3 separate regions of the Homo sapiens genome follow, and regions 2 and 3 are each linked to region 1. Evidence: fine-mapped QTL for protein levels in blood plasma. Region 1 holds a variant in brackets. A gene starts in each other region. All regions are shown on their reverse strands.

Region 1 (8,183 bases):
AGTTTGGGAGGGATACTCTTGAGTTCTTTGTTGGGGATCTGATTTGGAAGGCCTTCTGTCTGTCGTGTCTTTGTGTGTGTTTGTATATGTGGAGGGGATCTCAGAAGAAATTGCTGATGGAAGTCCAGCAGGCCTAACTTGGAGAATCCTCCTTATTTGTCTGGTCACATTTGGTGAGCCCTGAAGAAAGCTCGATAGGCCTTTCTCGGGGTGACTATTGGCTCTTTGCCTTGCCCAGAGACCCCACTGTGAATTATCATTTGGAGGTCATCCCTCCCCAGCTGGAATGGATCAAAGACAACAGGGACCGTCTGGAGAAAGTTTGAGCTTTGCTAGGTTGATATTGGGTGCTGAATGGGGTGACTAGTGTCTGTTTTGTTTTGTGTATTTTGCTGGGATGGAAAATGTTCATTCAGTTCCCCAATGCAGCCCATTGGGCAACATCTTGCAAATTGATTATCTTTTGCCTATGGTTCCATAAAACAGAAAAGGGTGATTTTCTTTTGTAAAGTGGCTTGAATCCCACAGCTATGGCACAGCGAGCAGGGTCATCAGAAGGTGCTCCATTCTTCTGGAAGCTGCAGAGAAAGGGAACCCATAAATCTGGTATGCCAAAAAAGGATAAGAAATTCTTACCAGCCAAGTTTCTGGTCTCTCTTTCTCTGTCTGCATAAATGGTAAATGTCACTATATTTGTCTCCTCTGCAAGAGTTTGATTAATAGAAAAATGGATTTGTGAGACTGGTCTTAGGCTGTAGCAAATCTGGTGTACTTTGTACTAAAAGTTTGTCTTTCTATATTCTGTAATGGAGAAAGGAGTATCACAGGATACAATGTGGGTTTAGGATCCCTATAAGCCCATTTTTCAAGCCAACCCAGCAGACTGGTCAATTACAAACTATGCTACGGGTCCCTGAAAACAATACTCGGTAAGATCGGTCTTGTTTTGTGTCCTTAAGAGCTTAACCTTGTGGGGATACTTTATCTTGGTTTCTGCCATCCAGAGGACAGGAATTTTGAGGTTCATGTCACAGCCCTAAGAATTATCTTGAGCAGTTAAAAGCCTTCTCAAACTCAAAATTGGCCTCTCTAGGCTCCTTTTGGGAAAAGCAATAGAAACTGCTCAATGCTGTATAGTTCAGTAACTAAGGGTTTATCTTTTGACAGTGGTGGCCTGGGTTCAATTCTTGGCTTCTGGAATGATTCCTTTCTGGTTTGTTATGTGTGTAACTTTGCCATTTGAGGTTTTTATGGATAGCTTCTGATTTCTTCTCTTGAATTTTTCTTTCTCTGAACTACCTTAGGGAGATTCTAAATCTAGTAAAAAAGAAACTGCTTACCATGCCTTTGAAGCACCTGGGAGGTTGGTTACTTTTGGTAAAGTTCAAAAGCCAGAAATATTGACTGCATGGATAAAGTCAGGTAATCAGAGATGTGAAAGGATTTTTTTAAAGACCACTATGGTTAAAAGTCAACTTAATTAAAAGTGCATAAGCAAGCTGTAGGTATATTTAAAAGGTCTTTATGCTTTTCTTTTCATGGATCTTGTTTTGCTGGAAAAAGGTTTTTTTTTTCTTTTAGTCGACTGAATTATTTTTCTCCATTTTGTCTTACCACTATTAATGCACACATGAGAGGCCCTAAGATAACTTCTGGTAGCCTGAGATTCCTTGGGAAAAACAGAGGAGGTGCTATAGACCCCATTTTGGGAAAAAACCCTGTTTTCCTCATGAAACCCCAGGAATTAAAAGCAGATAGGTCCCCCTCAAAATCTAAGTCTGTTCTGTTTTGCATTGTGCTATCTAACGGTTTTGAGTCTTGGGGGTATCAAAAATTACTTTGAATTATAGGAGGGCTTGATATATAATAACTAGGTAAAAAATATACTTTAAGAATTGGCTAATGTCAGTTATGAAGACATACTTAGCTCTTTGCAAGCTTGGATCAGAGAAACATGCTCTTGGCCACCTGGAAGATACGGAAACATCCCCAACCCCCACTGAGAGATGAGACTCCCATGGGGGATTGGCTGGTTACAAAATGGGCTGATTGGCTTTGGTTTTCCTTGCGATGACATGTGTGGTGGAAGCACTGCACTGTCTTCTCCTGTAGTATTTCTTTCCTTTTTAGGGATCCAGGATACATATAGAATGGCACCCTAATTTGGGGGATCTGTCTCTCCTTTCCAGCTGTGCCTCCTTATTAGGCCCCAGAAACTGCATGGTTTCCTGGCCCTGTTCCTCCACCCTGAAGCCAGTAATCCAATTAAGAAACTGGTAAATAAAAAATCTTACAAGTGCTGAATCTTCTATCTGTCTGTATTCATATGTGTTGTGTGTGTAATATTTACACAAAAAGAACTCTGTTTAATTGGCTTAAAAATAGATGCCGAAATCAAATATTTTGTCAGAAAAAGAGAAACTTTAATGCCTTTTGTACACGTGACTTTAATAATCTTTTGGAAATAAAGACAGTTTTAGAAATTATTGATAAAAACAAAAATGTCTTCAAAATGTAGACATTTGGTCTAAATTAACGTCAGATATCAGATTTACTAAATGTTTTAAGGTTGTAAGCTGTTTCTTTGACTTTTGAAAATTGTTTAATTTGCCTACTTTGGAAAGAGTTAGGCCTTATCTTCACTTCTGTCTGATGTCCTAGACTCCACACCTAGTACATAATTAAAATCACTTATCAGGTTTTCACCAAAAATAAAAGCTGCTAAGAGGTAACATTGTAACATGTAATTGAGACCACTGGAGAAACAGTTCTACATGTAAGGTGTGTAAGGAAAGTAAAAGATTATAGGAAGGCATGGGAATATGGCTTTTATTAAAGGGAATGTTGCCAGACGCGGTGGCTCACGCTTGTAATCCCAGCACTTTGGGAGGCTGAGGCAGGTGGATCACAAGGTCAAGAGATCGAGACCATCCTGGCCAAATGGTGAAACCCTGTCTCTACTAAAAATACAAAAATTAGCTGGATGCGATGGCACATGCCTGTAGTCCCAGCTACTCAGGAGGCTAAGGCAGGAGAATTGCTTGAATCTGGGATATGGAAGTTGCAGTGAGCCAAGATTGCACCACTGCACTCCAGCCTGGTGACAGAGCAAGACTCCATATCAAAAACAAAACAAAACAAAAAAGGAATATAATTTTGTCTAGTTCAGAGGGTTTAAAGATTATCTTAACCTAAAAGAGTAATGGGACAAAACTGGAGGTTTAAACAAAGTGAAAAGGGCTTATGAAGGGTTGGTCTTGTAAAAAAAAGTTCTGTGGGTATGAGCAAGTTGGCTAATATTGGAAGGGGATTATTTAATTTTTTTTTCTGTAGGTTGAACATTAAAATAAAAGCACACGAATACAGGGCCAGAATCTGAGCCCAGGTGTCCAAATAACAGGGTTTTCTTAGAAAACTGATCGACTGTTTAATGAAAAATTATAAAGTGTTCAAAAAAGTTTATGAAAATCTTACCTTATGGTCAGACTAATTAAGACTGAATACATTTGTAAATTTTTATTGTAAAACCAGCCTTAGCATTAAAAATGCACTAATACAAACATTAAATTTGGTTTTCTCTTTTGAAAAAGATTTTTATGTAAAAGATTTTTTACATAAAAGATTATGTAAAAGATTTTTTATAGTAAAAGAAAATGAAAGGGTTTTGTTTGCCCCTTTGGGTAAACTACAGGGAAAAAGGGGAGGAGAGAGAAGATACGATTCAGTTGGCCTCATGCTATCTTCATTGGGTCTTCTTGTTTGGAAAGCTATGTCTCCTCTATCAGAGTAAAGGGTTTTTCTTTTTAAAATTTTGGAGTTATCATTTTGGTCAAATGAATGACTTATGGTGACCTGGGATTCTATTTTGTGATATCCACAAAATAAATCTTTGATATTTGACAAACTTTCCAAAATCAAATTATAAATTATAATTTGATTATAATTATGTCTCTTTCTAACCTAATCTTTTAGATATTAGGTCCTCTAATGTCCAAAAATGACATCTGGCTTACGTGGTATAAAAATCATACAGGAAGCATTGTCAAATATAAAATGTTGTTTGGCTTTCTTTGGGCTGTATTTGTATAAATATGTTATTAGTATGTGTTCCAAAATTATGAGAAACTCCTATAATTCTGATATGATTGAATGTATGCTGTTAATATAATAGTTATAATTTGTATGTAAAATTGTTGTATGCCACAGAAGTAACCAAATTCCTAGTCAACTGTGGCTTTAATAATGGCCGTCCTAAGATTTGTTGTCATCCACAGACAATTGTTGTCATCCACAGACAATTGTTGTCTTGTTTGATGCTCTTCAAAAGGTGGTTTATAATCAGCTCTAGAACTTTGACAGGTGCTCTTGAATTCAGGTTTCCAATAACTTTGGAGAATGTGACATTAGAATAGAGGAAATAACTTCCAGGACTCTCATGGGGAGCTGAAATGTTCATAAATATCAAACAGAACAGGAGTTAATGGAATTGATTGAACTAATAGAAAACTGAAGTAATCTTTTTTTTTTTTTCTTTTGAAATGGAGTTTCGCTCTTGTCTCCCAGGCTGGACTGTTGTGACATCATCTCGGCTCACTGCAACCTCTGCCTCTCGGGTTGAAGTGATTCTCCTGCCTCGGCCTCCCAAGTAGCTGGGATTACAGGTACTCACCACCATGCCCATCTAATGTTTGTATTTTTAGTAGAGATGGGGTTTCACCATGTTGGCCAGGCTGGTCTCGAACTCCTGGCCTAAGGTGATCCACCCACTTTGGCCTCCCAAAGTACTGGGATTACAGGTGTGAGCCATTGAGCCTAGCCCAGTAATCTTTTGTATTAACTTTTTTGCTTAAAACATTGCTGATCCTTTTTGTTTTCCAGAGCCAAGAAAACTTTTCTTTTAAGCTACTTACAGCTTTTAACAGTTGAATAAAATATACTCCTGTGAAAAAATTTGGAGTATATTTGTTTCTCCCTACCTGATTTTTCCAGAATTTGGAAACTATTTGTGAATATTCTCAACATATGGCAGTATAGTTATTTGCATAAGTACAATGATAATCTGTTTTCTTTTGTAACAGGACACAATGGGAGAAACTGGTTATTTTATCAAGGCTTTGACTAGAATGGCATGCTTT[T/C]TTTAAAGAATCAAAGTTGGCTGGGCGAGGTGGCTCATGCCTGTAATCCCAGCACTTTGGGAGGCTGAGGCAGGCGGATCACCTGAGGTCAGGAGTTTGAGGCCAGCCTGGCTAACATGGTGAGACCCCATCTCTACTAAAAAGAAAAAAAATTCCAAAAATTAGCTGGGCATGGTGACAGGCGCCTGTAATCCCAGCAACTCTGGAGGCTGAGGCAGGAGAATCACTTGAACCCGGGAGATAGAGGTCACAGTGAGCTGAGATCGTGCCATTGCACTCTAGCCTGGGGAACAAGAGTGAAACTCTGTCTCAGAAAAAAAAAAAAGGAGAATCAAAGTTGAGTTATTGAGCTAATAAAAGCCCCTTGGGAAATCTGGCCTTATACCTTGTCTACACAGTCCCTGTTCAAAGTTCCTGACCTGTGGTAAGTAAAGAATGTCACTTTCTAACAGTCTCAGGAGACCCAAGTTTTCTTGGGACCTCAGGAGGAGAGAAATTTACCCAACTCATAGGTATTTGAGTGTACAAACCCATGGCTGGGCTTAGCTTTAAAAAAGTCTTATTTGAGATTCCTTACAGAACAGAGTTCCATCAAAGCCAATTTTAAAGGCCTATGTGAAAAATAGTTATTCTTGGTGTGCTTTGTGCAAATAATCAGGCCAAGTATAATAAGACTAAAGTTTATTTTGTAAACAAATCATTCTATCATGATTTGTTTTTAATAAAAATGGAGACTGAAGAGAGAAAAATTATGCTTCAAAAGAAAAGCTATAGTATACCTGTTGTTCGCTGTTCTTGAGTTTTTCGGCAGTTTGGACAAAATCCTAAATTTTTGTGGGCTACAAGTCTCCAAACTAATGCTTTCAAATCTTTACTTTTAAAACTGGGAATTACACTCCTTACTAGCTCCCTTTTGCCTTCCGCCTTGAGTGGAAGCAGTCTGAGGCCTAACCAGAAGCCCTGCAGATGGGGGTGCCATGCTTCTCGTACAGCTTGCAGAACTGTGAACCAAACATCTTTTGTTTATAAATTACTAAGTCTCAAGCATTCTGTGAAGGCAACACAATAGACTGGGACAGTATCAGAACTGGTCCTAGTGAGGTCCTTGTGAGACCTCTATAGCATGTGCTTCCTTTTAAGTTAGATTTAGTCTGCCATGACTGTGAGAATATCTGAACTACATTGATGAGCTTGGAATTACAATATTATATAAATTGCATTGTCTTGAAAACTAATGGTATTTCCTGAAATGACTCATCCCTGAACTCGATGGAGAGCTTTATTTTTTTCTTGCCACACTCTGTAACTTTGCAGTATAAGAAGTTAACCTAGGCTTGGCTAGTCGCCCACCCCTGTAATCCCAGCACTTTGGGAAGCTGAGGTGGGAAGACTGCTTGAGCCCAGGAGTTCAAGAGCAGCCTGGGCAACATGGTGAAACCCCATCCCTACAAAAGAATGTAAAAGTCATCCAGGCATGGTGGTGCACGCCTGTGGTCCCAGCTACTGCAGAGGCTGATATGGGAGGATCACTTGAACCCAGGCAATTGAGACTGCAGTGAGCCAAGATCATGCCACTGCACTCCATCTTGGGTGACAGGTTGAGACCCTGTCTCAAAAAAAAAGAAAAGAAGAAGAAGAAGAAAGAAGAAGTAGTTACCTATGCTCGTAATCACATAGGGCACTAGGGCAGGTGCCCAGGCACTGCAGGGTAAGGCCTAACGGAATTATGGCTCCGGGCTGGGTGCGGTGGCTCACGCCTGTAATCCCAGCACTTTGGGAGGCCAAGGTGGGTGGATCACCTGAGGTCAGGCATTTGAGACCAGCCTGGCCAACATGGTGAAACCCCGTCTCTACTAAAAATACAAAAAATTAGCTGGGTGTGGTGGTGCACACCTGTAATCCCAGCTACTACAGAGGCTGAGGCAGGAGAATTGCTTGAACCTGGGAGGCAGAGGTTGCAGTGAGCCAAGATTGCACCACTTCACTCCAGTCTGGGTGACAGAGTGAGAATCTGTCTCCAAAAAAAAAAAAGGAATTATGGCTCCAGGAGGATAAGTGTAACCCACCTTCCCTGTAAGGACAAAGGAAAGAGGGGCATTTGGCTGGAGCTATTATGAGCCCATCACTGGCCAGTGCCCAATTCTGGTACTTGCCACAACAAGGTGATCTGGGGACCAGGTAACCATCCCTGGGTAACCCTGGTGTCCTCTCTGAAGGCTGCTGGGGAAGGAGCATGAAGCCTGCTGCTACCTGGTCCTGCTCCTTGCTGTGTCCCAGATTCCACAGGGAAGGAGAAGGGGAATAGCTCTTAGGTCCCTATGGCAGGCTGGGATTTATGACTTATTAGACTTCACCTTACTTAGTGACACTGTTTAGGACTTTCGGACCACATCACTGATCTGGGAGAAGGAATGGCCAGCATTGCTATCCCCATTTTGCAGATGAGGAAATTGAAAGACTGAGGTGATATTCCTGGCCACAGGCCACATCATTCGACGGGGCAGGGCTGAGACACAGGCTCCCAGCCAGCACTGTCCTCTGCTCCCTGGCGATTTACAGGCATTTACAGGTGCCAGGCTCACTGCCCAGAGGTGTCAATATAAACATGATCCTTATCTGGGCTCCACACAACTCTCCTATCTGGCCTCCTCCTCTACCCCCTGAGCCTTTCTTTTTCTTTTTTCCTTTCTTTCTTTCTTTTATTTTTTTTTTGAGACGGATTCTGACTCTGTCGCCCAGGCTGGAGTGCAGTGGCGTGATCTCGGCTCACTGCAAGCTCCGCCTCCCAGGCTCACGCCATTCTCCTGCCTCTGCCTCCCCAGTAGCTGGGACTACAGGCGCCCGCCACCAGGCCTGGCTAATTTTTTGTATTTTTAGGAGAGACGGGGCTTCACCATGTTAGCCAGGATGGCCTCGATCTCCTGACCTCGTGATCCGCCCGCCTCAGCCTCCCAGAGTGCTTGGATTATGGGCTGAGCCACCGTGCCTGGCCCCACTGAGGGGCGGTAAGCCCGAGAGACTGAGATTCAACCACTTGCCTACCAAGTT
Region 2 (8,183 bases), not on the chromosome of region 1:
GCTGGGATTACAGGCACCTGCCACTATGCCCGGCTAATTTTTATATTTTTAGTAGAGACGGGGTTTCACCATTTTGGCCAGGCTGGTCTTGAACTCCTGACCTCGTGATCCACCCGCCTTGACCTCCCAAAGTGCTGGGATTACAGGCGTGAGCCACCATGCCGGGACTTATACTTCTTAATCTTGCATATTTCATTGCCTAGGGCCTTCAGGCAAAGATGAATAAAAGAAAATGATAGTAGGCTGGCTGGGCACAGTGGCTTCTGCCAGTAATCTCAGCACTTTGAGAGGCTGAGGCAGGCAGATGGCTTGAGTCCAGAAGTTTGAGACCAGACAGGCCAATATGGCGAAACCACATCTTAAAAAAAAAACAAAAAACCAAAATGTAGCCAGGCATAGTGACTTGTGCCTGTGGTCCCAGCTACTCTGGAGGCTGAGGTAGGAGGATTACTTGAGCCTGGGAGGCAGAGGTTGTAATGAGCCAAGATTGTGTCACTGCACTCCCGTCTGGATGACAGAGTGAGACCCCATCTCAGAAAAATGAATGAATGAATGAATGAATGAATGAATAAAAATAAATAAATAAAAAGAAAAGAAATGATAGTGGCTACATTTGTCTTTTTCTGACTTTCTTAGAAATTCTTCTCATGGTTCACCATACTCAATGGTGTGCTGGAGATGGCTCGCACTGACTCACAAGAGCTCACTGTTAACTTTTCAGGAGTTGGTGAGATCGTGTTAAACTGTCGATGGCTGGAAATTGGCCATGGGAATTGGACCACAGAAATGGACACCACAGAAATTGGAAAACACCACAAAATGACAGCATCCCCAGCCTGTTAAACATTTACCAGCACATCACTGTCGTCAGTCTTCTTCATTTTCAACATCCCAACTGCCATCAGAGAGAGGCCAATAGAGTCCGATATAGGACGATAATATAGCAATACACATGTCATACACAAATAAAGAATTACAAATGAGGGTAAACCTAAAACACAAGCGAACTTGATCATAACTGGTAGAAATGACATGTGAACACTGATAAGAATTGGAAGAGATAAGAGAATCTTGTAAATAATGAAGAACAGATTCAATGTGGTTCGATGCTGCTGCTATTTGGCAAGTTTAACTTTATTTCCTCAAATTAAAGATCCATGGATAAAGGAATAAAAAAAAAATAGGGGCTATGGTGGTAGGGATGGGCCTGGGATTGGGATAGGTCCCAGCTATGGGGCTAGGAGAGGAATAAAGCAGACATCAAAGCTGGAAACGACTTGTGTTTGAATCCCAGTTCCATCACTTCCTGCTGTGAGATCTTGGGCAAATCACTTAGTCTCTTGGAGCCTCAGTCCCTCATCCGTGAAATGGGGATACAAAGATGTACCTCGCCCACACTGGCCAGCAGACCAAGGCTCCCACTCCCCTGGGCCCTCTCTGGCTTCTTTCTCCTTAGCTCAGCAGGTCCACTTGGGGTTCTGGGCTCCCAGAGAGGTGCTTTATCCCCTACCCAGGCCCCATAGCTCCAGCCCCGGCCCCCTAGTGTCCCTGCATTTAACGATCCCTCCTTCAGGCATCCTACCCAGAGGCTGGTTCCCAGGCACTCTAGCACCTGTGGCTGGACTTCAATATCTGGGGAGGTGGAGGCCAGGAGGGGAGAGTTGAGGGCACAAGCAGGGCGAGGCCAGCATGTCCAGGGTGATGCTGTGGGCTGGGTCTGGAATGCAGCAATGGTTGGCCCAGCCTCGGGAGGCCTCAGGAATATCTCTGACACCAGGCGAGGAGTCTTCTTTATCCCCTGATATGTCTATCTTGTACCCAGCCTATGGAAATCTCCCTCCAGCACACCTGGGCAGAAAGGAAAGGCGCCGAGCCCAGCCCTGGACAGATCTGGGTCCGGTCCTGCTCTGACATCTACTACTGGTGTGACCTCGGGCAGCAAGAGTGAGACAATGGCCAAGACTCAGGCGGCTCCTTCTGTGCCCCAAGCCTTGCTCGGTGCTTGACCTGCATGATCTCCCTGAGGACTCAGTGCCCATAATGTTGGTACCAGGATTATGCCCCACCACCCCTCCCTCTTCCCTCTGCAGCTCCTGTCCCCAGCCTGGGGAAGGAGAGATATCTGTTACCTGGAAAGACGAACAGAGAGATCAGTAAAGACTCATCGGGGCCCCGTTTTTCGACCCCACACCAGTACTCCCCAGCGTCTTGCAGGGTGAGGTTCCACAGGGTCACAATGAGCGAGAGCTCCTGGCGGCTGTCACGGATGGACACCCTGCCCTTCATTGTCTCCTGGCCTTCTTCTTCTGCATAGATGGTGCCAGAGCAGCGAGAGAAGAGGATCCCACCCTTCCTGCACCAGTACTTCCGGTGGTCCCTCAGCTCTTCCCTGTAGGTGCACTGCAGGGACACAGTGTCCCCTTCGAACCCGCTGATTTCCTCTGGGCCCTCCAGGGCTTCATAACCTAAAATCAGAGCAGGAGTGGAGGTTGGAAAAACCAGGCTCCATGTACCAAGGTCAAGGCCAGAGCTTCCATTTTAGGAGGAAGAAGGAAGGCTTTTCTCAGTCATCCCTTCTGGGGACAGCCTTGGAAGAGCCATTACTAACCTCCCACGCTGGGGGAACTTGGGGCAGGGCTGTTGCTGTTTCCCTAACCCTGGCCCATTGAGGAATTGGGGTGCAGGGGTGGCGTTCTAGATTCAGATAGAATCTGACAGCCAGATAGCCAGCAGGGTTTCTGAGTGTTTTGTTTTGTTTTGTTTGTTTGTTTGTTTGTTTTTGAGATGGAGTCTCACTTTGCCGCCCAGGCTGGAGTGCAGTGGCCCGATGTCTGCTCACTGAAACTTCTGCCTCCCGGGTTCAGGTGATTCTCCTGCCTCAGCCTCCTGAGTACCTGGGACTACAGCCACGTGCTGCCATGCCCGGCTAATTTTTTGTATTTTTAGTAGAGACGGGGTTTCACCGTGTTAGCCAGGATGGTCTTGATCTCCTGACCTTGTGATCCGTCCGCCTCAGCCTCCCAAAGAGCTTGGATTACAGGCGTGAGCCACCGTGCCTGGTTTTGTTTTGTTTTTAGACAGGATCTCACTCTGTTGCCCAGGCTGGAGGGCAATGGTGCTCATGGCTCACTGTAGCCTTGACCTCTGGGGCTCAAGCGATCCTCCCACCTTAGCCTCCCACTAGCTAGGACTACAAGTGTGCACCACCATGCCTGGCTAATTTTGTTTGTTTGTTTGTTTGTTTGTTTGTAGAGATGGGGTCTCACTATTGCCAACTGAACAACTGACATCAGTTGTAGGATTTATCCTGATTTTAAGTGTTAGAAGGTAAAGAAAAAGAAAGCAAAAGAATTGATGAAACGTGATAATTCTTCATCTTTCAGGGTTGTGGGGAGAGGCATAGCCGAAATTCAACAAATATTTGCTGAGTTTAACAGGGCAACCAGATGGGGTGTCTTGTCCGCCTCCAGGCTTGGCACAGGGTAGAAAAATTAAGATTAGAGAGGCAAAGCAACTCTCACAGCCACATTGCCATGAGGGGAAACCCACAGGTCTGGAGAAAACCTGGCTCTAGGTTCCAGAAACAGCAAGTGCGGCCCCGGCGCCACCCCCACCTCCCCCCACCCCCAGCCCGCCCCGCTCCCCTAGGGCTGAGGAGGCTGAGGATAGGTGGGGTGGGGCTATCAGTCAGTCAAGAGGTCCTTTCCCTGCAGACCACAAGGGTGAGCCCCACATCCCTCCCGAGACCCTCTCCCCATCTCACCTGGGAGCAGCAGGCAACCCCATAGCAGGACCAGAAGCCGCATTCTGGGCGCTGGACACCGTGGGAGCAGACGCTGGGAACTGTGAGCTCCTCTTCAGTCACACGGGTCTTTAACTTTCTCTAGTCGCGTGAAACCAGGCCAAGGAAGCGAGGGGAGGGGCGTGTGGGTCATCCCTCCGCAGGCCCAGCCGGGGAGGCGCCTCTGCCTTCCCTTTTCTGAGCGCCCACGCGTGCCTACCCCAGGGCTCACCTTCCAGGACTGAAAACCCACACCAGAGTTTCTCCTAAACTCGTGCCCCTTCAAGGGGGCCTTAACCTGTGGTCCGTGCGCCCTAAGGGGTCTGTAAGTCGAATTCGCATGGGAAAAAGTTACATATTGACTTTCATCAACTTCTAATATTTAGCTTTTCCTCTTATTCAGAGTGTACTGTTAGCAGTACCTGCAACTTTGTTACCAATTACAATCACAGACACTGGCACATCAAGTTGTGGATATCTCGAAACGTCGTGTATACCCCTCACTGCTTGGAAAACAATGAGTTCCTAGACCTGCCCCTAGAGCTGGTTATTTACAATAATGAAACGGCTATTATTATATTACACATTTATAAAGAGTTTTAAGAATCATCTCACCAGTATTAGTTTTCTTTCCAGCATATATATTTTATTTATATATTTACCCGCCATTATACTGAGAGAGGGGTCCATAAACTTCACCAGACTGCCATGTGGTCAGTGGGACAGAAAGAAGCTTGCCCCTGGGGCAAGGCCCCTGGCCCCTCCTCCGCCCTTGCCTTTTGGAGGACGCAGTACTGCCCTTGGCCACGGGGCGGCGGTGCAGACGGGGCTGAGCAAAGCTGTAGGGCTGAGCTGGACCGGATTCCCTGGTGCCTTGGGCCTACAGCGCTGCAAGATAGGTCTCCTCCACGCCTGCGGAGTTGTTTTGGCATTTGAAAAAGTGAATTGGTGGTTTCTCCATCGCAGACTTGAATCCTCCTTGAAAGGACCAAAACAAACATGTACACTACTGGGAGCTCTGACACACTGGCTTCAAAAATGACTTTTTTTTTGGTTTGGTTGCAAAGTTCATACAGGTTGTAAGCAAAATTTTACACAATACAGAACGTAAAAAGGAAAGAAAGAAAAAAGGGAGTGCTTCTTGTAATTCCCCTTCTGCTTTAGAAAAGCACCATTAATATTTTGGCATATATCCTTCCAAATGTTCAGTTGGAATTTTACTGACTTGTCAGGTTAATATCTGAAGCATTAACTCAGTGGTTCTGGGAGGGAAGATTGTGTGTGTGTGAGTCTAGTAACGTGGGGAGAAGTGTTTTAATTTCACAATGACTGCGAAGCACTGCTGCCATTTAGTGGGCAGGGCCAGCTGTTCACGGTGGGGAAAACTGTTACCATGATCTCAGCCCCTGACTCTCTTTTACATGTACAGACTACAAAAGGTGATCTGTTTTTGCAGTTTTAAAAAAACACAGATTAAAAAATATTTATGGCCCAGCATGGTGGCTCACGCCTGTCATCCCAGCACTTTGGGAGGCTGAGGCGGGTGGATCACCTGAAGTCGGGAGTTTGAGACCAGCCTGACCAACATGGAGAAACCCAGTCTCTACTAAAAATATAAAATTAGCCAGGCATGGTGGTGTATGCCTGTAATCCCAGCTACTCAGGGAGGCTGAGGCAGGAGAATCGCTTGAACCCAGAAGGTGGAGGTTGTGGTGAGCTGAGATCACACCATTGCACTCCAGCCTAGGCAACAAGAGTGAAATTCTATCTAAAAAAAGAAAAAAAAGTATTTGTTTATTTACTTATTTTTGAGACAGGTCTCACTCTTGTTGCCCAAACTGGAGTGCAGTGGCGCCATCACAGCTCACTGCAGCCTCAAACTCCCAGGCTGAAGTGATCCTCCCACCTCAGCCTCCCAAGTAGCTGGCACTACAGGCGTGCACCACTGTTGCCTGGCTAATTTTTTATTTTTAGTAGAGACAGGGTCTTGTTATGTTGTCAGGCTTTTCTCAAACTCCTGGCTTCATGCGATCCTCCCACGTCGGCCTCCCAAAGTGCTGGGATTACAGGCACGAGCCACCATGCCCGGCCTTAAAGTAATACTTATTCTAGCATTTGATAGCATATCTTTGCTCTTCTATTTATTTATTTTTGTCCTTACACAGAATAATTTCTGATCCTCTACATTTCTTAAATTCAGACTTATTTATTATATGCAAGGACGAGCATCTGACACTTCATTATGCTTTCTAGTGTCATGGGACCTGAGCACTGACAGATTGAAATATGTGTTATTTGGTTATAAATTGCTTTCCTTTTATTTTTTCTCCCTAGTATAGCTCAGGCACTATAGTGTGATTTTAAAGAAGTAAGTGCTTGTGAAGGCATATTATTTATGATTGTCATTTTAGGAGAGTAAGCGAGGTGTTATTAAATGTTTATTTATATAAAGAGCATGTTGAGTGGATCCCTACCCTCTTCCTGCATATTTGAAGGTCCTTCCCCTCCATTTCCCAGCCCCACACCTAGCCCAGGAGGCTGGCTCAAGAACTCCATTAGAAACAGATTCACCAGACTGGGAAGTGGAGCAAGGGCTGGGGAGAAGGGTGAAAGTGAGGTGCTGGCATGAGCCTCGCACCTAGTTCCACCTTAGGCCACACTCTGGGGTAGATGGGGCCAACAGACAGACCTCCGTGGTGGGCTGGGGATCTGAGAAGAGAGGATATTTTTGTCCTGCTTCCCACCAGAAGCATGGGGAGGTGCCCCACCATCACTGCACCTGGGAGAGGCAATGAGGCACAAGGGCTCCTGGACAGGTCACTGGGCTCGTGACAGCCTCATCACATCCTCAGGAAGGCCTCTGTGTGCCCAAGAGGTACAGTGGCAGGGATGAGGGGACTGAGCTGCTTGGTCTTCGATGGCCACCCTGGTCCAATTCCTCTCGGTTTGGACTTGGACTAAATCACTTCAGCTGCTCCAAGAGGGTCACTTGCTCCTCTTAGATCAAGGTTTCCCCAACCTCAGTACTGTTGACATTTTAAGTTAGATAATTCTTTGTTGTGGGAGACTGTCCTGTGAATTATAGGATGTTTAGCAGCATCTCCAGCTGTACCCCCTAGATGCCAGTAGTCCCTTCCCAGTTGTGATAATCAAAAATGTCTCCAGGCTGGGTGAGGTGGCTCATGCTTATAATCCCAGCACTTTGGGAGGCCAAGGTGAGTGGATCACTTGAGCCCAGGAGTTTGAGACCAGCCTGGGCAACATGACAAAACCCCGTCTCTGCAAAAAATACAGAAAATTAGCCAAGCATGGCAGTGTGCACCTGTGGTCCCAGCTACACACAGGCTGAGGTGACAGAATCACCTGAGCATGGGAGGTCGAGGCTGTAGTGAGTCGAGATCCCATCACTGCACGCCAGCCTGGGTGATGGGAGTGAGACCTTGTCTCAAAAAAAAAAAAAAAAAAAAAAAGGCCGGGCGCAGTGGCTCACGCCTGTAATCCCAGCACTTTGGGAGGCCGGGGTGGGCGGATCACAAGGTCAGGAGATCGAGACCATCCTGGCTAACACGGTGAAACCCCGTCTCTAAAAAAATAAAATACAAAAAAATTAGCTGGGCATGGTGGCGGGCACCTGTAGTCCCAGCTACTCGGGAGGCTGAGGCAGGAGAATGGCGTGAACCCGGGAGGTGGAGCTTGCAGTCAGCTGAGATCACGCCACTGCACTCCAGCCTGGGTGACAGAGCAAGACTCTGTCTCAAAAAAAAAAAAAAAAAAAAAGCCTCCAGGCATTGTCAAACATCCCACTGAGAGGCAAAAATACCCTGGGTTGAGAACTGCTGTCTTAGATGATGAATAACTGTGGAACAAATAAGTGCACTTTTGTGTAAGTTATGTTTATTGTTTATGTAGGTCAGGGTGTTCCATCTTTTGGCTTCCCTGGGCCAAGAAGAAGAATTGTCTTGGACCACACATAAAATACAGTAACACCAGTGATAGCTGATGAGTTAAAAAAATAATCTCATAATGTTTTAAGAAAGCTTACGAGTTTGTTTGGGGCTTCATTTAAAGCCATCCTGGCTGCATGCAGCCCGTGGGCCGCGGGTGGATAAGCTTGATGCAGGCATAGTAACACGGTTTTGGAAACAGGACAGTGGGCAGAACCTAATGCTGAACCCCAGAATCAGGTAAAACTGCGTCCTTCTTTCCTCAGTGGAGCTGGGCCATCCTCGTAATACTCAGGGTGAGGTGTGGTGTATCAGTTTAGAACACACACTTTTTGCAGGTGGGCCAGCTCACCAGAGAAAAGGAAGAAGAGAGCCGGGTTACACACGCCTTGTTCCTCCTTCAACATTCATCAATCAAATCAGCAGAGGCATGGAGAAAGGCGTGGAGAGGTGTAGAG
Region 3 (8,183 bases), not on the chromosome of region 1:
TTCTGGTCCATCTATTCTTACATTGAGGTTTGTCCTGAGCAAAAATCTGTATTTCCTGACACCTGGCCTGGATTATAATGGGATTGAGGGAGCTCTTTCAGAGTGAAGTGAACAAGCCCACTCAGACTTTGGCCCCAGTGGTCAGTCAGAATGGATGGAGTCATGGGGGGCAGGGAGAACCTCCCAAAGAAGTGTACATCCAGTGAGAGCAAGCCTCAATCTATTCATTACCCAATTTGTTCATGTAGTATACACTTATTAAATGCCTAATGTGTCTTAAGCATTTTTCTAGATGCTGGGATACAGTAGAGAATAAAACAAGTCCTTAAGGAGATGACTCTCTTGATTGGGGGAAGAAGGAGACATACAAATAAACAAATAACTGTAAAGTGTGACAAATGGTGAAAAGTACAATAAAAAAGAAACAAATGAAAGGTAAAGTGGGAAAGAGTGCTGAGGTGAGATAGGTTTGCTATTTTATTAAAGAGTGGTCAGGCAGGGCCTCCCACAGGAGGTGGCATTTTAGCAGAAATATGATAGAGTGAGGGAATGAAGGAAGAGTAGGGGAGGTAGAGGCAACACCAGATAGAAAGGTCCTGTGACAGGAAAGCCTTGATGTCTTAGGGCAGTGGTCCTAAACTTGAGCATCAGAGTCCCTTGGAAGGCTTGGTCAACACCCGTTGATGAGCCCCCACCGTTGGATTTCTGGTCCATTAAGTCTGGGGTGAGGCCTGAGAATGTTCATTCCTAACAAGTTTCCTGGTGATGCCGATGCTGCTGGCTTGGGGACAACACATCGAAAATCACTTCCTTAGAGGAGTAGCTGTGCAGTCAGGGTGGCTGGAAAGCTCAAGTAGGAAGGGGAAGAGTAGTCAGGGGCAGATTGACTCACACTCTGATGTGCATAGAAACCACTTGGGTCTGTCAAAATGAAGATGCTAATTCTGTAGGTCTGGGGTGGATCCTCAAATGCTGCATTTCTAAGAGAAAGCTCTTGAGTGACACAGATCACTTTGGCCTGTGGACCACACTTTGGGAATCAAGGCTCTAGGGCCTTTACTTTATGTTGAAGGAGAAGTCATTAGATGGTTGGAGCAGAGAAATGACATGATCTGAAGGATATTAAAAGGAGAGCTCTATGTTGTGCAGAATAGTCTTTAGGGAGCAAAGGCAGAAAGGGAAGCACAGTTATGAGGCCTGTCAAAGGACCAGCCCAGACATGAGGTGGCTGACCAAGGTAGGGGCAGTAAAAGTGCTGAAAAGTCTCAACTGTAGTATGATTTGAAAGTAGATCTAGGCCAGGCGTGGTGGCTCATGCCTGTAATCTCAGCACTTTGGGAGGCTAAGGTGGGCGGATCACAAGGTCTTGAGTTCAAGACCAGCCTAGCCAACATAGAGAAACCCCATCTCTACTAAAAATAGAAAAACTAGCCTGGCATGGTGGTGGGCACCTATAATCCCAGCTACTCGGGAGGCTGAGGCAGGAGACTCGCTTGAACCCAGGAGGCGGAGGTTGCAGTGAGCCGAGATGGCACCACTGCACTCGAGCCTGGGTGACATAGCAACACTCCATCTCAGGAGAAAAGAAAAGAAAAGAGAAAAAAGAAAAGTAGATCGAGTAGATCGAATAACATTTGCTGACAGATTGTGTGTCAGGTGTGAGAGAAAAGCAAGAGTTAGGGGCAACTCTAACATTCTGAGCCGAAAATCTAGAAGGAGTGAGTCACATTTACTGAAATGAAAAGGACTGAGAGGAGCAGGTCTTGGGATGGAGGATAAGAAACGTTTACTCAGCCTTGTGAGGCAAAAAGAAGATGGTAAAAAGGTGGCAATTTTCTCTATATGATTTTCCCAATTTATGGTGTTAGAATCTGGCCATATGGCTAACCCAATCAATCCTGGTGGTTTGGTTGAAATGGCCTAAAAAGAAGATTTACATGGTAATGAGATTTCTCCACTGGGGTCAAGGATCAGAGGTGGTGGTGGGCCTAAAGAGTACAAAATGGCAAAGAGGTAAATAATTAATTTTTATTAGATAAATAATGATGAGATTAGAAAAACTCTAATTCTAATCCCATTTCTGTTGTAAAATACAGCAGATTCTCTGAACTGTTTACACAATGGCTAACTCTAAAGAGAGATATTTTAGTGCCTGGCTCTGAAGTCTTGGGACCCATTTATGCATTCACCCATTTACCTTCCTAAACTATTTCTGCTCTGCCTATGCAGCCATTCTCCAGCTATTCCAATTAAATATCAACTAACTGGCTTCTCTGTGAGTGAGACAAAGCCAGAAAAATTGACCCTTAGTTATTGGTATGTTAGTTTTGTAGCCTTCAGATAGCACTGAGCTATTAAGGTATGGGCTACAAGATCTGGAAGTAAGCCCCATCACTGCTACCTATGATCTTGAGCAAGTCACTCTACCCATGAGAAGCCACCTGTCGCTTCCCAAAAAAATGAAAACAGCACTTACTCCACGACAAGACTGGACAAATAAATATGCAATTGCATATAAAAGCTTTTGTAAACTGAAGGTACTTATTATCATGAATAGCTCTGCTTCCACAAATCCTGACCTAAGACACTGGGAATGCAGAGGCTTCTCTCTCATTTCAGAAGCAGGACAACAGAGAGAAAACAGAGATGATGACTCAGCTTCTCTCTCCTCTCAGTAATGGATGAGACTGATGAATTTCTTCAAGAAATATATTTGTAAATGAGATGTCTAAGTGGAGATTGCTTTACACTCACCCCTAAGTCTCAACCGAGGAGTTGTTAGTGAATATGATGGGCCAGTGGAGGGGTTGGGTTTTGTTTCCCCACTAAATATAACCAGAGGCTTATTCTTATATTTTTCTTTAACAATCGGAATAATTATCTATTTGCTTTCCTTTTCCTCCAAATACAAATTGGAAAAATAAAATTTTTATAAAGAGAAACTTGTTACATATTTCTAGATCCATTGAGGACTTCCTAGCTCTCCTAGAAAGTCTGGTCTAACTATCTTCTCTTTCCGCATTTTTATCTTTCAGAAAATGCAATTTCTCACAAAGCACCAAAAAATATTTCTCCCCCAGAGAATCACAATACAGTATTAGGAAGGAAAGTGTTCAGTAATCCCACCACTGGGTTTCAAGTAATTTCAAGACTTTAATAACACAAAAATTGAACTCACCTAAATTGATTTCTGAAATATCCTTCTGTTCACCAAAATCTGCATCATGTACTGTTAAAAGTGAGAAAAAAAATTATTATTAGTCTTGCCGAAGGAAAAAAGTTCAAAAACACTCTCTGTGCATTTGAACTAATTCTTACCATTTTCTTCAGGAAGATACTTAATCTGAAAAAAATAAATATACAGAAAATGGATAATGTATACTAGAATTAATATTTCTAAATATCCAAAAAGCAGGACTCGACTTACCGGTACAGCTGCTATGTGGGCAAAAAGCAAGGTAAAAAAGAGAATGCAAGTGGATCTAATCCAAGCCATTGCTGCAAGTGAGCTGATTTTAGCACACACCTTGTCATAAATACCGTTTAGACTTTACCCTGACGGTCGTATTAGAAACTTTGACCCTTCCATATGTACCGTAGTGCCAATAAAGGTTGTCAAAGATAACATCATTGACTCTTTCGAGGACAAACACTAAGTTTACCTTAAATGCTTAAGCTCCAAAGACTGGGGAAAAGTTTGAAAAATTAATACGGAAATGAGCATATAAGAACTAATAACATTCCTATAGGGCAGCCATAGCCATTCATATCATAAAACAGGATAGACGATCCCCTTAACAATAAAAATAAAAATAATTTATAAAATTATTATTATTTAATTCTAATAAAATATAAATTCAAATTTTATGGAAATGTTATAAAGCAATTATTGAAGGACATAAAAATACCTGACTCTCTCTCTATATGTACATATGTATGAAATATTAATAGATTGTTTTAATATTAATCTATAAATTCATTGTCATTCTAGTAAAAAATCTAACAGGGTTTTCAGTGGAACTTGCCAAGCTGACAAATGGTTCAATTCGCATGAAAGAGTAAACATTGAAGAATAGATAAGAAAATTCTGAAAAGGCTGAATAAAGAGAAAAGAATTGCCTCAAAAGAATATCAGGAGCTTTGGTAAAGTTACAGTAATTAGAGTGTAATAGTTCCAAAAATAAAGATAAAATGAATCTATAGACTGGAATAGGTAATATCCAAATAGATGCAAGCATATGCAGGGCTTTTATGTATAAGAGGAACCAAAAAGGCAAGAGGGAAACTTGGGTCTCTTTCATAATAATGTGGGAATAATTGCATTTCCATATGAGGAAATACATTAAATGTACACCTGATACCATTGACAAAAATAAATTCTAGATAGATTAAAAATTTAAATATGAAAATATAAACTTCAAAAAAGAAAATATAGGAACATATTTTTAACCTTTAGGTCAAGAAAGATTGCTTAAACATGAAAAAAACATAGAAATTACAGAGGAAAAGAATAATACATTTGACTGTATCAAAATTTAAACTTCTTTATGACAAAAACATAACATGATTAAAAGACAAGCCACAGGTGAGAGATGATATGTATACTGCATATAATTGAATAAGAATAAGTATTCAGGATATGTAAAGAATTTCTACAAATCAATAAAAAGAACAGGAGATTATCTAAGGAAAAAATGAACAAAAAATATGAGTAGCAAATTCACAAAAGACCCAGATGGCCAATAAATATGTAAAAAGATTTTTAGCCTCGTAAGTAATCAGAAAAATTATAGGTTCAAATAGCAGTAAAATACCACCTCAAGCTAAGATTGGCATAAATTAAGAAGACTGACAATATCAAGTGTCAACAAGAAGGTAAGAAAATAGGAAATCTAGTAGGACATCAATTTGATGCTATCTAATGAAGTTGAAATGTGCACAGTTCATAAGATAGAAACTTCACTTCTAGGTCTATATGCTAAAGGAACTCACACATATGTGCACAAAATTCCACATAGCATATTCATTGAAGTTTTTTTGTTATGGTAAAGAATGGGGAAAATGTGTTTATACTAAAAGAAAAGATAAATTATGGAATATATTCAGCCATGCACAGGTAAATGTTTAATAATCGGCTCTTTTAAAAAAAGTAAAAACAAACAAGCAAACAAACAAAACCAAGCCTTTATTTGTAGTGTTTGTTGATTGCCATGGTCAATTTCAAGCTACCAACACCATGTCACTGAATGCAGTGTTGGGAAGAGATGTACACAGTGGGCTCCATCTGCGCCAGCACAATACTAAATATATGCACACACCCACCTATTCTTGCCTGCACCAGATATAAGAATCTTTGGCATTAGAGCAATCTTCAAGGTCTAGAGCCTGCATCTCTCTACCTCAGACTTACTACTGGGCAGGTGGGCTAGTCCTGCTGTCAAAAAAGCATTTCCTGTCACAAAAGACTTTTAGAAGGTGAACAGTAGAGCTTCTTGAGCTGTAAAATAGGAGGCATGTCAACTGGGGGCCTGCTTCTGATGGGCAGAAGCGTTCTATGGCTGATTTTTGTTTTACCTAAGCCACTGATGGTGAGGTGATAAAAGGCCATCTTCCACCGTCTCTAACCATTACAAACCACTAATATTATTTTTTAAACGAAACAAAACAAAACAAAAAGCCAAATTTGCCCAACAGCCGCAATGACTTAAGTGAGCAACTACAATCTAGACCATTTAAAAATTGGGCAATAATCAAATTTTAAAACTGGCCAACATCGTAAGAATAATTGGCTTTAAGTATCAGTGTGGAAAACATATGAGACTTTTATTTCTTAAATGTGTTGTTTAATTTTTCTCAAATTCTGAAGCAATTATGGTAAAACTGAATATTTGGTAAAACTGAATATTTGTTAATCTTGGAAACCAGGAAGTAGGAGTTTGTTATTTTATTTTCTAAAGAAAAAGGCAGTGCTGTTGCTTTGGTACACCTCTCTACTAAATCTCAGGTATCAGGATTTCAAACAGGGAATAGTGAGGCTGTTTAATTCTCTCCACCTTCTCTTGCTTCCAGCCAGATGTGTTTTTATCTTTCCCTGCCTTCTTAAACTTATCTGAATGATATACTACAACAATGGCTTTGGAATCAGATAAGCAGGAACTCCACCTCTACCATTGACTAGCTACAGTAATTTTAGTACCTGCTTTTTATGTGTAGAATGGATAGTGGTGCCTACTTCATGGGGCCAATGTAAAGATTCAATGAGATAACATATGTAAACCACAGCTACTAGAAACATAGGAAGCACTCAATAAACTGCTCCTTCTACCTGCTAGTTAGCAACTGCCTCCTAGCAAAACATGGGCACTAAAAACACAGCTCAGCCCACTCCTTGCTCAGTAGAATCTCCAGTGATGAGAACATAGGTCTTCAGCAGACACAACTTGCCCCCAATTATTTTATTGTCACAATCTTAATGGCAGATGTTAATTAGTTACCAGCTATTTGCAATCCTAGTCACTTCTTCATTGTGTCAGGGTATCAAATGAGTAAGGCTGGGGCCTTAAGTCCTTCATTTGAAGGGTTTATGGCTTTTCAGTTTAAAGAAGATTATGCACTCTGTGGTCAAGGTCCATGCTTTATTTCCTGTATTTGCCCCAGTGTTTGGAAACATAGTAGGTAATTAGTTCTCATTTTAACTGAAAAAAGTAAATAGAAATTTCTCTGAAGGTATCGGATGGGGTGACTTGCTTTGATCTCAGGAAGGGCATTTCATAAACTGACCAGTTGAGAAAGTGGTCTGAAGCTTAGAGGAAGAAAGCCATTGACAGGTAGAAAATGGAAAAACCCGCCCCCAGCTATTTCCACACACTCTCCAGCTTCATAAAAGCTCAGGCAAGGAGTTGGGCTAAGAGACTTGCAAAGTCCTCTCACCCCAAACCCTTCTCAAGGATGTTCTCTGCCCTCTTTCTACTCTATTGCAAGATGCTGATTCCTTCTGCTTCACTCACAGAGTTCTGCCTTCAACCAGCTGTCAGCTAACCTGAAACACAACAGTCCTTGTTCCTCCCAGGGCAATCAACATATTAACAGGGGCCCAAAGGTGTATAGAGCAAGAGTCGGCAAACTGTCTGTAAAGGGCAAAGAGATATATGTCAAGCATTGTGGGCCATATGAGCCCTGTTGTAGCTATGTAACTCTCCTGTTGTATGTAGCATAAAGTAGCTGTAGACAATAATGTAAAGGTGTGAACATGGCTGTGTTCCAATAAAACTTTATTCACAAAAACAAAGCAAAGGGTCATAGTTTGCTGACCCCTGGGTTTTAGAGAATAACCCTCAAGGTGGTGGAAATTGAGACGGTGATAATAATTATAACAGAAGCAGTAGCAGCAACCAACATGTACATAGTACTTACTGTGGGCCAGGCAGTATTCCAAGTATCTAAGGGTAATTATCCATTCAATCCTCACAACAATCCTACGAAGAAGCAACTATTATTATCTCCATTTTATATATTAAGAAACTGAGATGAAGAAAAATTAAGGAACCTTCTCAAGGTCATGCAGATCCTGAACAATGCTCCTAAATTCCACCTGAGAGGCAGTTCTTTACACCTATGTCTGGCCTTTGACAGCCCAGGAGTGAGGCCTCCACCATTATGCTGTAGCATGCAGACCCCTGGTTTCACAGGGTTCCATCTCTAACAGTTTACTAAGAAGAATTAACCCTGAGGGAAACAGTTCCCAAGCTATAGATTCCTTCAAAATCCTCTGGATGGTTTGTTGAGGTACAAATTTCTTGGCTTGGAATTTGGAAATCCTGACTCACGTCAAATGGTGAGTTCCAGAGATCTGCATTTTTAATAAGCACCCTTGTGACTCTGATGCAGGTAGTCTGTGGAACACACTTTGATGAACAGGACACTGTGGAATTTGCATCAGTCAGATGCTTCCACTCTCACTGTGGTTATCGAATAGCTTTCCTCTGATTCCCTTTGTATAAGAAAATCAAAAGATCATAGAACCTTCAGTTTCCTAATAGGGAATACATCAGATGTTAAGAATTCGAGAGATCATCAACACAGAAGTCCATTTCAGAAGGCCTCCAGGAAACAGCCCCTCTGCAGTGTGGTTTGAGGACCTGCATTTTTAACAAGCTTGGGGGTTATTTCTATATGGAAAATGT

Direction of the effects. Positions count from the first base shown, and alleles are read on the strand shown. Strength reflects both the effect of a copy and how common the allele is.
As copies of T replace C in region 1, the plasma level of the protein whose gene starts at base 3,847 in region 2 goes up (strong association).
With allele T in place of C in region 1, the plasma level of the protein whose gene starts at base 3,506 in region 3 is higher (strong association).

The links. PIP is the chance, under the fine-mapping model, that this variant and not a neighbour inherited with it causes the effect. Protein levels are from antibody-based Olink assays in UK Biobank. Linkage for the fine-mapping came from a reference panel and not from the study's own genotypes, which makes the PIPs less certain.
Region 2: it holds the start of CD300LG, and the variant in region 1 is fine-mapped to the plasma level of the CD300LG protein (UK Biobank, PIP above 0.99).
Region 3: it holds the start of MEP1A, and the variant in region 1 is fine-mapped to the plasma level of the MEP1A protein (UK Biobank, PIP above 0.99).

Annotation. Positions count from the first base shown.
Region 1 is chr9:133,284,951-133,293,133 of GRCh38, reverse strand. No RefSeq gene overlaps it. Among named protein-coding and RNA genes, the nearest start is that of SURF6, 47 kb to the left of the region's middle. The variant T/C (reference allele first, on the strand shown) is at 5,136.
Region 2 is chr17:43,842,840-43,851,022 of GRCh38, reverse strand. It overlaps CD300LG (CD300 molecule like family member g), which reads right to left and starts at 3,847. Exons shown (of 7, transcript NM_145273.4): 1 at 3,764-3,847; 2 at 2,130-2,465. The coding sequence starts at 3,806. It overlaps LOC107984979 (a long non-coding RNA gene), which reads right to left. Exons shown (of 3, transcript XR_001753057.2): 3 at 4,548-4,759. It overlaps LOC107985077 (a long non-coding RNA gene), which reads left to right. Exons shown (of 2, transcript XR_001752896.2): 2 at 722-1,273.
Region 3 is chr6:46,788,712-46,796,894 of GRCh38, reverse strand. It overlaps MEP1A (meprin A subunit alpha), which reads right to left and starts at 3,506. Exons shown (of 14, transcript NM_005588.3): 1 at 3,428-3,506; 2 at 3,319-3,343; 3 at 3,179-3,229. The coding sequence starts at 3,496.